3 linked regions of the Homo sapiens genome follow. Changing the gene in region 3 together with the main gene of any one other region gives a genetic interaction. Each region holds a gene or a part of one and is shown on either strand. Other genes may lie near its edges.

Region 1 (3,648 bases), on a different chromosome or scaffold from region 3:
TGGCCACCTCCACATACCCATCATCTAGTGAATTTCTTTGCTCACTTCAAATCACAGCTCAATCATCACTTCTGAGGGAAGCCTTCCCTGACTCCCTCAGCTCTGGATTAGGTCGATCCTCCTGTATTCTAGTCCTCAAAGAGCACCAACTACCTTACCTTCATAGCACGTATGCAGTTATCCTCCTCAGTAGAATAAAAATTCTATGAGAAAGGAACCATGTCAGCTTCTCATTTTCCCCCATTCATCATTGTTTTTCTAGCACCTGACTTAGCACCTCATAGGTGCCCAATAAATACTTGTTGATGACTGAAACAAAGAATGAATAAATAAAAATTCTATGAGAAAGGAACCGTGCCAGCTTCTCATTTTCCCCTATTCGTCATTGTTTTTCTAACACCAGTCTTCGCACCTCACAGGTGCCCAATAAATACTTGTTGATGACTGAAACAATGAAAGAACAAACCAGGATGGTATGTTTGAGAAAATACAAATGAGTTCTGTTGCGGGAAGTCACGGACCCTGAACGGAGGGACCGGCTGGAGCTGCAGCAGAGAAACATAAATTGCGAAGATTTCATTTTAATATGGACATATATCAGTTCCCAAATAATACTTTTATAATTTCTTATGCCTGTCTTTACTTCAATCTCTGAACATAAATTGTGAAGATTTCATTTTAATATGGACATTTATCAGTTCCAAAAATTAATACTTTTATAATTTCTTATGCCTGTCTTTAATCTCTTAATCCTGTTATCTTTGTAAGCTGAGAATGTAAGTCACCTCAGGACCACTATTGTGTTAACTGTACAAATTGATTGTAAAACATGTGTGTTTAAACAATATGAAATCAGTGCACCTTGAAAAAGAACAGAATAACAGTGATTTTCAGGGAACAAGGGAAGACAACCATAAGGTCTGACTGCCTACAGGGTCAGGCAGAATACAGCCATATTTTTGTTCTTGCAGAGAGCCTATAAACAGACGTGCAAGTAGGGAAGATATCACTAAATTCTTTTCCTAGCAAGAAATATTAATAATTAAGACCCTGGGAAAGGAATGCATTCCTGGTGGGGGGGGGGGGGTCTATAAAGGGCCGCTCTGGGAGTGTCTGTCTTACGCAGTTGAGATAAGGACTGAAATATGCCCTGTTCTCCTGCAGTACCCTCAAGCTTACTAGGATTGGGAAACCCCACCCTGGTAAATTTGAGGTCAGACCAGTTCTCTGCTCTCGAACCCTGTTTTCTGTTGTTTAAGATGTTTATCAAGACAATACATACACTGCTGAACATAGACCCTTATCAGGAGTTTCTGATTTTGTCCTTGTCCTGTTTCCTCAGAAGCATGTGATCTTTGTGACCCACTCCCTGTTCGCACACCCCCTCCCCTTTTGAAGTCCTTAATAAAAACCTGCTGGTTTTGCAGCTCGGGTCGGCATCACAGTCCTACCAATATGTGATGTCACCCCCAGAGGCCCAGCTGTAAAATTCCTCTCTTTGTACTCTTTCTCTTTATTTCTCAGCCAGCTGACACTTATGGAAAATAGAAAGAACATACCTTGAAATATTGGGGGCAGGTTCCCCTGATAGAGTTCTGTATGGCAGCAAGGAGAGGCACATGGGGCAGAGTAGATGGACCATGCCATAAAAGCAGGCAAAGGCCATATCATGAAGAGCCTTATGTGAAAAGCTATGCAACTGTATTTCTGCATAGATCTCTATTTTAGTAAAGGCAATCCACAGCAGTGAGGACCAGACTGCTGAGGCAGGGCAACCAGCTGGGAGGCTGTGCAGAAAGACAGGCAAAAAGGGAGGGGAGCCTGAAATGAGGGAGCAAGGGAGGAAATGGAGGAGATGTGAGTCAGGAGATAGCAACAAAGTCGAATCTATAGAACTCTGATGACTACCTGGACTTGGAAGATGGAAAGGAGGGCTAGTACCAGAGGAAGAGTCTGAGATGACTCTCAGGGTTCTGTTTTGGATGACTAAATGAAAGGAGAGGAATTGGCAAGATTCAAGAATGGAGAAAGAACGGCAGGTTCAAAGGGAAGATGAGGAGCTTAGTTTTAGACTTGTTTGAGTTTGAGGGTAGCACTCAGGAGAGATTCGGGCTATGATACAGAACAGGGGTCATGAGCATATAAACAAGTTTGAAGCTGCGGTTGAAAAGAATATAGTAGAGGGCAGAGTCTTGGCAAAAATTGGCATGTGAGGGACAAAGGGGAAGAAAGGAGCCCACAATGGAAATTGAGGGACAAATGGCCAGAGAGATAATACAAAGTAGGACTGGGTTTTCCTAAGTGAGGGGCAAGGTCAGCAATGTCAGATGTGCCAAGAAAGATAAGAAGGAAAAGTGGTCAGGTATTCTGGCAATGTCGAGGTCTGATGACTTTGGGGAGTGGTGGGACGAGAGCAGGATTTTAGCAATGACTTAGGGAAGTACAGGAAGCAACTCTAGATAACTCTTCCAAGAAAGGTGGCTGGGTAAAAGAGGTGTGACAGGGTGCAGCATAGGTTAATTGGAGGGTTTTTGTTTTTTCCAAAATGAGAGTAAACAGAGAATATTTAAATGAGAAGGGTTGATGAAACAGAAAAGAAAATGAACAAATGATGGAACCCAGTCCTTGAGGCAAAGGAGGCGATGGGATCTCAAGCACAAATAGAGGACTTAGTCTTAAAACACCATTTCTTTCACAGAATTAGAATAAAAGGCAAAAGGATAGGGTCAGCTAAAGATCAGTTGGTAAAGGATAGAAGAGGAAGCTGCGATGCCTTAATTAATGGCTGCAACTTAGTGGAGCAAAAGTCAAGGTAGGAGGTTGAGGAGAGGAATGAATATGAGGAAGACATAAAGGGAAATGGACAAGAGAGCTGCCTGAGGATATGGGGAGGGCTGAGCCACGCTGAGGGCCTATTTGGTGGCACACTAGTGTAATAGTGTCAAAAGCACAATGTGTCTATAATGGAGCTGGCAGGGCTTTAGGTTACCACAAGAAAAGTGCAGTCTTGCTCTGCATGGTTAGAGTCCTCAAGGAAAGAGGATTTCCTTTCTGTACCACACACTCAAAGAGAGGCTGACAAACCAGAGCAAGTTCAAGGATGGTAACTGGGATGAAGGTGTGAGGAAATCCCAAAAGTGATCATTCTGAAGCCGGTCTGAGATGGAGTGAATAGGCTATTCCTCAGTCTGCCAAGATCATGGTAATACCTACTGACTACCAATTAACAGAGCAGCACCTCCAGTATTTATTGTCCCTTGATTATACAATCAGGCCTTAATCGCACTGGAGAAGGGTGGGGAGATCAGGAGATAGAAAGGGGAGAGGAAGCGGTGGCTCACGCCTGTAATCTCAGCACTTTGAGAGGCTGAGGCAGGCGGATCACGAGGTCAGGAGATGGAGACCATCCTGGCTAGCACAGTGAAACCCCATCTCTACTAAAAAAAAAAAAAAAAAAAAAAAATTAGCCGGGCATGGTGGTGGGCACCTGTAGTCCCAGTTCCTGGGGAGGCTGAGGCAGGAGTATGGAGTGAACCCAGGAGGCAGAGCTTGCAGTGAGCCGAGATCGTGCCACTGCACTCCAGCCTGGGCGACAGAGTGAGACTCCATCTCAAAAAAAAAGAAAAAAAAAAAAAGAGGAGAGGAAGA
Region 2 (3,648 bases), on a different chromosome or scaffold from region 3:
TGGTGTGCAGCTGGTGCAGCTTATGGTAGACCAGGGCTGCGTCTCGGGCGCTGGCGCTAGCATCCACTCGCAGAGCACAGTCCTGCTGCAGGCCCCCTGCCCGGCCTGCCAGCCAGCGGCCCACCCAGAGACGCTGCAGCAGGTGACGGATGAGGTTCCAGAGGAGGCTACAAGCCAGGTCCAGGTGGGAGGTGGGCAGGGGCCGGCCCAGTGCCCGCAGGGCCAGCCACAGCTGCTGGGCAGCCTGGGCAAAGTCTCCCTGTGGATGAGGGTTTTCCAGGTGAGAAAAGTGAGGTCAGAGCAGCTGCCCCAAAGCTCAGAAGAGCCGTCCACAGCAGGCTCTGGAGGGGTGGTGGGGGTCTGCGGATGCGTGGCTAGGCACAGGGAGGACGGGACAGATTCATGGTGTGCACAGGGAGCAGGAACAAGGGTTGACACCCAGCACCTTCACAGCCTGGGGTCCCTGCCCTGCCCACTCTGCCGGGGCCAGCCCCTTACCCGGGCCAGGTCCAGGTCAGCCTGCTTGCGATGCCTCCAGAAGTACACGGCGGGGCCTGAGTGGGGCCGTGTGACTGGCTCACCGTAGACAAAGAGAAGCACCAAGGAGACGAGCACCAACAGCCCATTGAGCAGCCAGACCACTGGGGGCAGCAGCCACTGGGCCCAGCCAGGGCCATCTATGGACAGAGGGAAAGCTGGGGACACAGCTCCCAGGAAATCCAGAGCCCCAAGTTCACAAGCCTGGGGGCTCACCCCGAGTGTCCCTCCCAAAGATGCCCAGGCTGGCCGGTCCCACCTCTGCTCTCGGTGCCCAGCACGTTGCGCCCAGGGCTATGGTAGACGCTGGTGGTATCTGAGGGGCTGGGAAGCCCCCGGGCCCCCAGCAAGGAGGCCAAGGGGTTGCAGGACAGGCAGAGGAAGACGAGCGTGCACAGGGCCAGGCGGGAGCGGTCCAGCATGCCCCGGCTGTGCAGAGACGGCCGCTGCTCTGGCTTTGCCTGGTGGGGTTGGGCAGGGTGGTGAGGGCAGAATCGGAGGGACCCCAGAGAGCATGGGGCTGGGAAGGGGGGGGTCAGGATTCTGCCCACCTTACTGTGGGACCCCACGTGGCTCCAGGCCTCAGTTATTCTGTCTATGAAATGGGAGGTAGGATCTGTTAGGGTCTTCCCGGCCCTGTCATGAGGCTCAGAGGATATGGCTGGGAGTGGGGAAGGGGGCACCGTGGCAGGGCCCAACCTTGCTGTCCTCAAAGACTGGGCTGTCAGGCTCCGAGTCACTGCCACTGCCACCGCTGCCACTGCCCCTGCTGCCAAGGGACAAGGGGCTGCTCTGGAAAGGTGAGCCAGCATCCGAGGGGGGTGGGGTCAGTGTGTCCTCCACCTCAGTCTTCACGCCCTCCATGAGCACGTCTGTGTTCCCTCCACTGCCACAGGCCGACACCAGATCCTTCAGAGATTCTGTGGGCCGAAAGGAACAGAGCCAGGAGTAAAGGCTGGATATGTGACCCCAAATCAGAGCCTAGGCCCTTGGAGGCCTAGGGACTACTGTAGCTCCTAAAGCTAGCCCAGGACGCTTTGATGGGGCTGGGTTAGGGCCAAAGGGAGGCACCAGGTCTCTTTCAGGACCAGAGGTAACCAAGGGACTAGAGCTGAATGCAGGGCTACAGCCAAGGGTGAGGTGGGCAGGGCAGAGGGTGGGCCAGAACCAAGGGTGGGGTGGGGCTAGGGATGGGGTGGGGCCGGGAGGTGGAGCAAGGCTAGAGAAGAGGCCAGACTGGAGCTCAATAAAGCCAGGACTCACTGCTTTTGTGGACAGCAGTGCGCAGACTTAGGTTCTCCTGCTTGAGTTTCTGGTTGCTGTGTTGCAGAAAGCGAATGTAGTCGATGGCCTTGCGCAAGACAGCAGATTTATTCAGCTGCACGGTGTGGGAGGGAGGGGGAGCGCACAGGTGGCCTGTCAGGTCGGGGGTTGTGGGGTTGGAGAGCCCTAGCAAGGGGGTGCGGAGCTGCTTTGCAACATTACTGCCTCAGGACCTTTGCACTTGTTCCTTCTACCTGAACCGTTCCTCGCCTAGTAGCACCCACCTCCCAGGCCGGGCATAGGGTTAGAATGTAAGATGCAGACAGCAGGGTCTGGCTAGCTGCTGCTGTGCCTGCCGCCATCTCAGGGAGGCCTTCCCTGGCTACCACCAGGGGACCCTCACCATCCTCTTCCTGCTTTCTCTGCAACGAGCCAAACGTGGTGGTCTCGAGCACTTATTCATCCTGCCTACTGTCCATCTCCCCCACCAGAAGGTCGGCTCTTCTTTGAGGGACAATTTTTGTCTGTCTTGTTCATTGCTGCATCCCCAATGCCTAGCACAGCCCCACCTTTATTGAAGAGGCCTGCAAACCAGTTTAACTAAATAAACGAGGCTGGCCAGGCCTGGGGAGGCTGAATTCCAATTCCCTGCTTGTCCAGGCTCAGTCTCACTCCCTCTCTTCCTTCCAGTTGCCCCTGATCTGTTCCTTCCTAGGGACACCCCGGTCTGTGCCCCTGCAGGCCTCTCCACACCTTTGCCTCAGTGCCCACCACCAGATCCTTGAGCTCAATGATTTTGTCATTGATGGAGGAGCGGTAGCGCTTCTCAATGGCGTTGTGGGCTGTGCGCTTCTCTCCACGGCTCTGGGCAGAGGCCGGGGCCTTGCTGCCAGCTGCGAGCCGGTTGATAGGCAGCTTCTCCGCATCTACGACCAGTGGGACTGTTGCCAAGATGGTTCCGCCACTCACCAGGGTCTGCAGGGCCAGGCACATGTTACCAGGTGGGCATGTGTGTGTGTGTGTAGACCCCACTCCCTTATGCCCTGCCCACGTCACCCACCGGCAAAGGCCCTGTCTGCACAGTGGTGCCAGAGACCAGGGGACTGAGACCTGCCGCCTTCACAGTGGCTCCGTCTGTCTTCATGGCTGTCAGAAGCAGCGAGTCTGCCTTGATGAAGTGGGGCTGCAGCAGGACCTGAGGGTGGGAGAGGCTTGGCTGTAAGCTGTGTGTCTGGGCTGGGGCTGCCCCCTCCCCAACCCCTGGCCAGACCCCCTCACCGGGACCTGCTGGATCTGCGAGGTCACAGTGGTCGTTACAGGGGCTGCCGTGGGGGCAGCTGTGACTGTCAGTAGCTGCTGGGGGACCACACTCTGGACCTGGGTGTGCAAGGAGACGGGCGGGACCCCTGGCGGGGAAGCCAGTGGCAGGCCAGGCAGCGGCTGCTGGGTGTTCCCGGGAGGGCTTCCTGCAGAAATAAAGCATGGGGCTGCAGACACAGACCTCCCTCTCCCACTTTCAACCTGCTCTTCAGGTCTCTATCACCGACTGGCCTTGGATGAGTCATTGCCCCATGTGGCTTCCTATGGACAGTCCCTGCCTGGGCTCTGATGCAAATGCACTGGCTTCAAGCCAGGCCTCCAGTGCGAGGTTGCGCCTACCCCGGCAACAAGCACACCAGGACTGCTAGTAACAGGGCATCTCAAGCAGCCGAGTGGAGCCCCAGTTTCTAAAGCCTGCACAGACCTCTACTCACATCACAGCAGAAGCTTCTTCCTGTGCTCCTGGAAGCCCCACCCCGGGTGTCCCCTCCCGCCACACATCCCCCTTACCTGTAGAGAAGCCTCCCG
Region 3 (3,648 bases):
AAGCGGCCTGGAGTGGCCACAATGATGTTCCCACTTTGGAAAGAAAGTTAACATTTACCAAACTCTCTGGATCTTGGGAATGTGGTTGATGATTACCAAAATACCAAGTTTTATATCCCCCCAAAGTCATTTAAGCCCTAGTGAAGAGAACGAAGAGCATGAGAGTAGAAGAGTGCTGCAGGGTAGAAAGACTGAGGGCTGTGGTGAGACGGGATCTGGGTTCTGGGCTATGACCTAGGCAAGGTTGGCAAACTCCAGCTCCCGGACCAAACCTGGGCTGCTGCCTGTCCTTGCCAAGTATTTTATTGGCAGAAAACCACGCCCATTTATTCACATGTTGTCTATCGCTGCCTTCACACTACAACAGCAGTTGAGTAAGTGCGATGGAGACCATATGGTTCACAAAGCCGAAAACATTTACCATCTGCTCCTTTATAAAAAAAAAGCTTACCAACCTCTGACTTACGCAAGTTACTCAACCATTGTAGGTCCCAGGTAACTCACTTGTAAAATGGAAATGTTGACAGAATTAGAGAATCCTATGTAAAGATCACAAACTGGCAGACTCAGGGCCAGATGTGGCTCCCTCAGACTGGCTCACCTACAAGATATGTTTTTCAAATGTGGATTACACGCCAACAGTTAAAAAATCAGGAGATTACACACACAAATCTGGAATTCCATCTTCTTTTTAAAAAATTCAAAACCTGCCACTACTGAGCCGAGTCCTCCCAGGCAACTACCAGCTGGAGCTGAGTATTCAAGGCAGCTGCTGGCCAGTTCCTCACCATCCCCCAGCCCCTGACCACTCATTTATCTTCACGTCGTTCTCTTGACCTCTGTAAGAACCTGAGTTTGTGAAGTTCTCATCAGGGCCTTATGGGAAGGAGCCAGCAAAGCACAATGGGAAGCTGGCCTGGAGAAAACACCTTTTTGCAGGGGGAGGAGGCTGCTGAAAGGGGGACCCACAGTTAGGCTGAGATCACACATCGATTCTTAGGTTCAATGCCAAAAGCAAGCAAAGAAACAAGCAGACACGAGCAAACTCACCCTTGTTGCTTAAACCTCTCAACATCTTCTCCAGGATTCCTGCCTCCGATCCAAAGAATCTGGCTACAACAAGAAAACAGCCTTTGATTAAGTTCGACAAAACAGCCCATGACTAACAGGGACACTGCATCCAATTCACCTGAACTCGGGGAAGTGCTTCGTGAAATGCGACAGGACCTCGTCTATTTGAATGGCCAGCTCTCGAGTGGGGGTGATGATTATGGCTCCAACCTACCCACATGGAAGGAAGGGACACAGTCAGCAGCACAAGGGACTCCCAGAGAGGAACTCATAGGCCCTCCGCCCTCTACCACACAAAGGAAAGTTCCAGAGAAACAGTAGTTCCCAGACTTTCTCAGCAGCATCTCTGAGCACATATCAACTACTTTGAATTACGGTTACTCGTCATCATATACTGCAGTTATGCTCTTTCAAGTCATGAAGAACAGTGAATTAGTCAATGCTGAACCACTGCTCACAGGGGAAACACAGGGTTAGGTTCCTGCCAGTCTTTGGGCATGACATTTTTGTCAACCAATCAATACATAAACCTATTTTATGTCTGTTTGTGCTTAAAAGACTCTATTTAACATATACTATTGATTCATTCTCATTGAACTCGTGGCCAACAGCACATTAACTCATGCCTTAGCTTGTGCTTCTCTAGCACAGGGATTTTCTCTGCACGTCATAACCTTCTTGCACCCAGGAACACTAGACTGCACTACATCACGGGGCCATTTCAAAAACCAAAATCACCAACATAAAGCACAAAAATGTGCAAAATGGCCGGGCGCGGTAGCTCACACCTGTAATCCCAGCACTTTGGGAGGCCGAGGCGGAAGGATCACTTGAGCCCAGGAGTTTAAGACCAGCCTGGGTAACATGTCAAAAAATACAAAAAATGACCCAGACATGATGGTCCACACCTGTAGTCCCAGCTACTTGGAAGGCTGAGGCAGGAGGACAGCTTAAGCCTGGGAGGTGGAGGTTGCAGTGAGATGAGATCACACCACTGCACTCCAGCCTGGGTGACAGAGCAAAACCCTGTCTCAGGGAAAAAAGAAAAAAAAAAAAAAGGTAAAAAACATGGCACTAAATAAATGACGAAAAGGACACTGTTTACACCTGAGCAGTGAAAACAAAGGCAGCTCTGCCCACGCCCATGACCACAGAAGCACCGAGGATCCACTGGGGTGTTCTAAATTTTAACGAGCAGGCAAATTCACAAATACAGAATCCACAAATAATGAGGATTAACTGTCTTTTTTTTTCAAGTTTCATTCATTCATTATTTGTAGAGATGAAGTCTCACTGTGTTGCCCAGGCTGGTCTCAAACTCCTGGACTCCAGTGATCCTCCAGACTCAGTCTCCCAAAGTGCTGGGATTACAGGCGTGAGCCACGGCTTCTGGCCTATTTTTTCACATTTGTAGCCAGCTTCTTAATCCAATGTGAACTCTCTGATGACTAGGTGAAAATAAATCACTTTTGTTGTCCTCACCTGACTCTTTTTTAACTTCTCTTCTCTTCTCAGAAGAATTTCCAGGATGGGGATGACAAAAGCGAGTGTTTTGCCACTACCTGTGACCTGCAAACAGAGAGTTTTGGTTTCCCTTTCTTCCTCAGAGTTCATCTGAGGGAGAACACGAGGACAGGCTGCACATACCCGAGGCACTCACCGCTTCTGCAGCGACATCTTTGTTTCGCATGAACAGAGGGATGGTTGCGGACTAAAGAGAGAGATTGCAAAGCACTGGTTAAAGGATGCCATCAATTCACAGGTGAGACCCGAAGCCCTAGGAACATAATGGGCAGCTAAGGTCACAGTGGGTCCCACCACAAAAGGGGCTCTGAGTAACCAAGTCACCATAGAGAAGTTGAATCAAACGTGGCAACTGTGTCTATGTGGACGGCGTGTGGGGACAGTGAGCTGAGCTGGGAGGTGGGAGTCCTGAATTCTAGCCCTGTCGCTCCTACTTTCCTCTCTGAACCAGGAAGGCGTTGAAGACATTGGGTTTTAGGGTCCCTTCCAGCTCTAGTATCACAGAATCATGATTCAAATAAACCCTCTCATTTTAAGCACTGTAGAGGTTGCCAGACTTTAAAAGAAACCTGGTTTTAGCAATCAAAAAAAACCTCAATTAGATTCAGGCCTTGGCCTGGAGGCTGCTCCCTCCAGGATTCAGCCCTGGTCCCCAGGGCCTGAGCTCACTTAAATCACAGCAGGTGTAATATTATTCTAACTGCCTCTACACAGTGATTGCTATCCCCCTGCTCAACCCCTGAGGGAACATTTGACAATGTAAGGAGACATTTTTGGTTGTCAAAACCCAGGGTGGGCCAGGCGTGGTGGCTCACATCTATAATCACAGCACTTTGGGAGGCCCAGGTGGGTAGATCCCTTAAGGCCAGGAATTCCAGACCAGCCAGGCAACACAGGGAGACTCTGTCTCTACAAAGAAAATTTTTTTAATTATGTGGGTGTGGTGGTGCATGCCTGCAGTCCCAGCTACTCAGGAGGCTAAGGTAAGAGGATCACCTAGGCCCAGGGAGGTCGAGGCTACTGTGAGCTGTGACTGTGCCACTGCACTCCAGC

What was found.
Region 1: of DDX55 (region 3) and ATG7, changing one suppresses a phenotype caused by changing the other (phenotypic suppression), as found in Homo sapiens cells (one large-scale study listed by BioGRID).
Region 2: changes in DDX55 (region 3) and SREBF1 together harm fitness more than expected from each alone (negative genetic interaction), as found in Homo sapiens cells (one large-scale study listed by BioGRID).

What each region holds. Positions count from the first base shown.
Region 1 is NC_000003.12:11,275,331-11,278,978, reverse strand, and holds part of ATG7 (ubiquitin-like modifier-activating enzyme ATG7), read right to left. Parts: exon of another isoform or gene 159-3,648; intron 1-158. UniProt on the Homo sapiens protein: E1-like activating enzyme involved in the 2 ubiquitin-like systems required for cytoplasm to vacuole transport (Cvt) and autophagy.
Region 2 is NC_000017.11:17,816,460-17,820,107, forward strand, and holds part of SREBF1 (sterol regulatory element-binding protein 1), read right to left. Parts: coding exon 3,631-3,648; intron 3,267-3,630; coding exon 3,079-3,266; intron 2,996-3,078; coding exon 2,861-2,995; intron 2,776-2,860; coding exon 2,554-2,775; intron 1,916-2,553; coding exon 1,801-1,915; intron 1,458-1,800; coding exon 1,237-1,457; intron 1,133-1,236; coding exon of another isoform or gene 1,089-1,132; intron 999-1,088; coding exon 797-998; intron 678-796; coding exon 499-677; intron 260-498; coding exon 1-259.
Region 3 is NC_000012.12:123,605,065-123,608,712, reverse strand, and holds part of DDX55 (ATP-dependent RNA helicase DDX55), read right to left. Parts: exon of another isoform or gene 2,783-3,648; coding exon 2,732-2,782; exon of another isoform or gene 2,686-2,731; coding exon of another isoform or gene 2,641-2,685; coding exon 2,554-2,640; intron 1,282-2,553; coding exon 1,190-1,281; intron 1,114-1,189; coding exon 1,051-1,113; intron 34-1,050; coding exon 1-33. UniProt on the Homo sapiens protein: Probable ATP-binding RNA helicase. Has ATPase activity and is involved in the maturation of precursor large subunit rRNAs.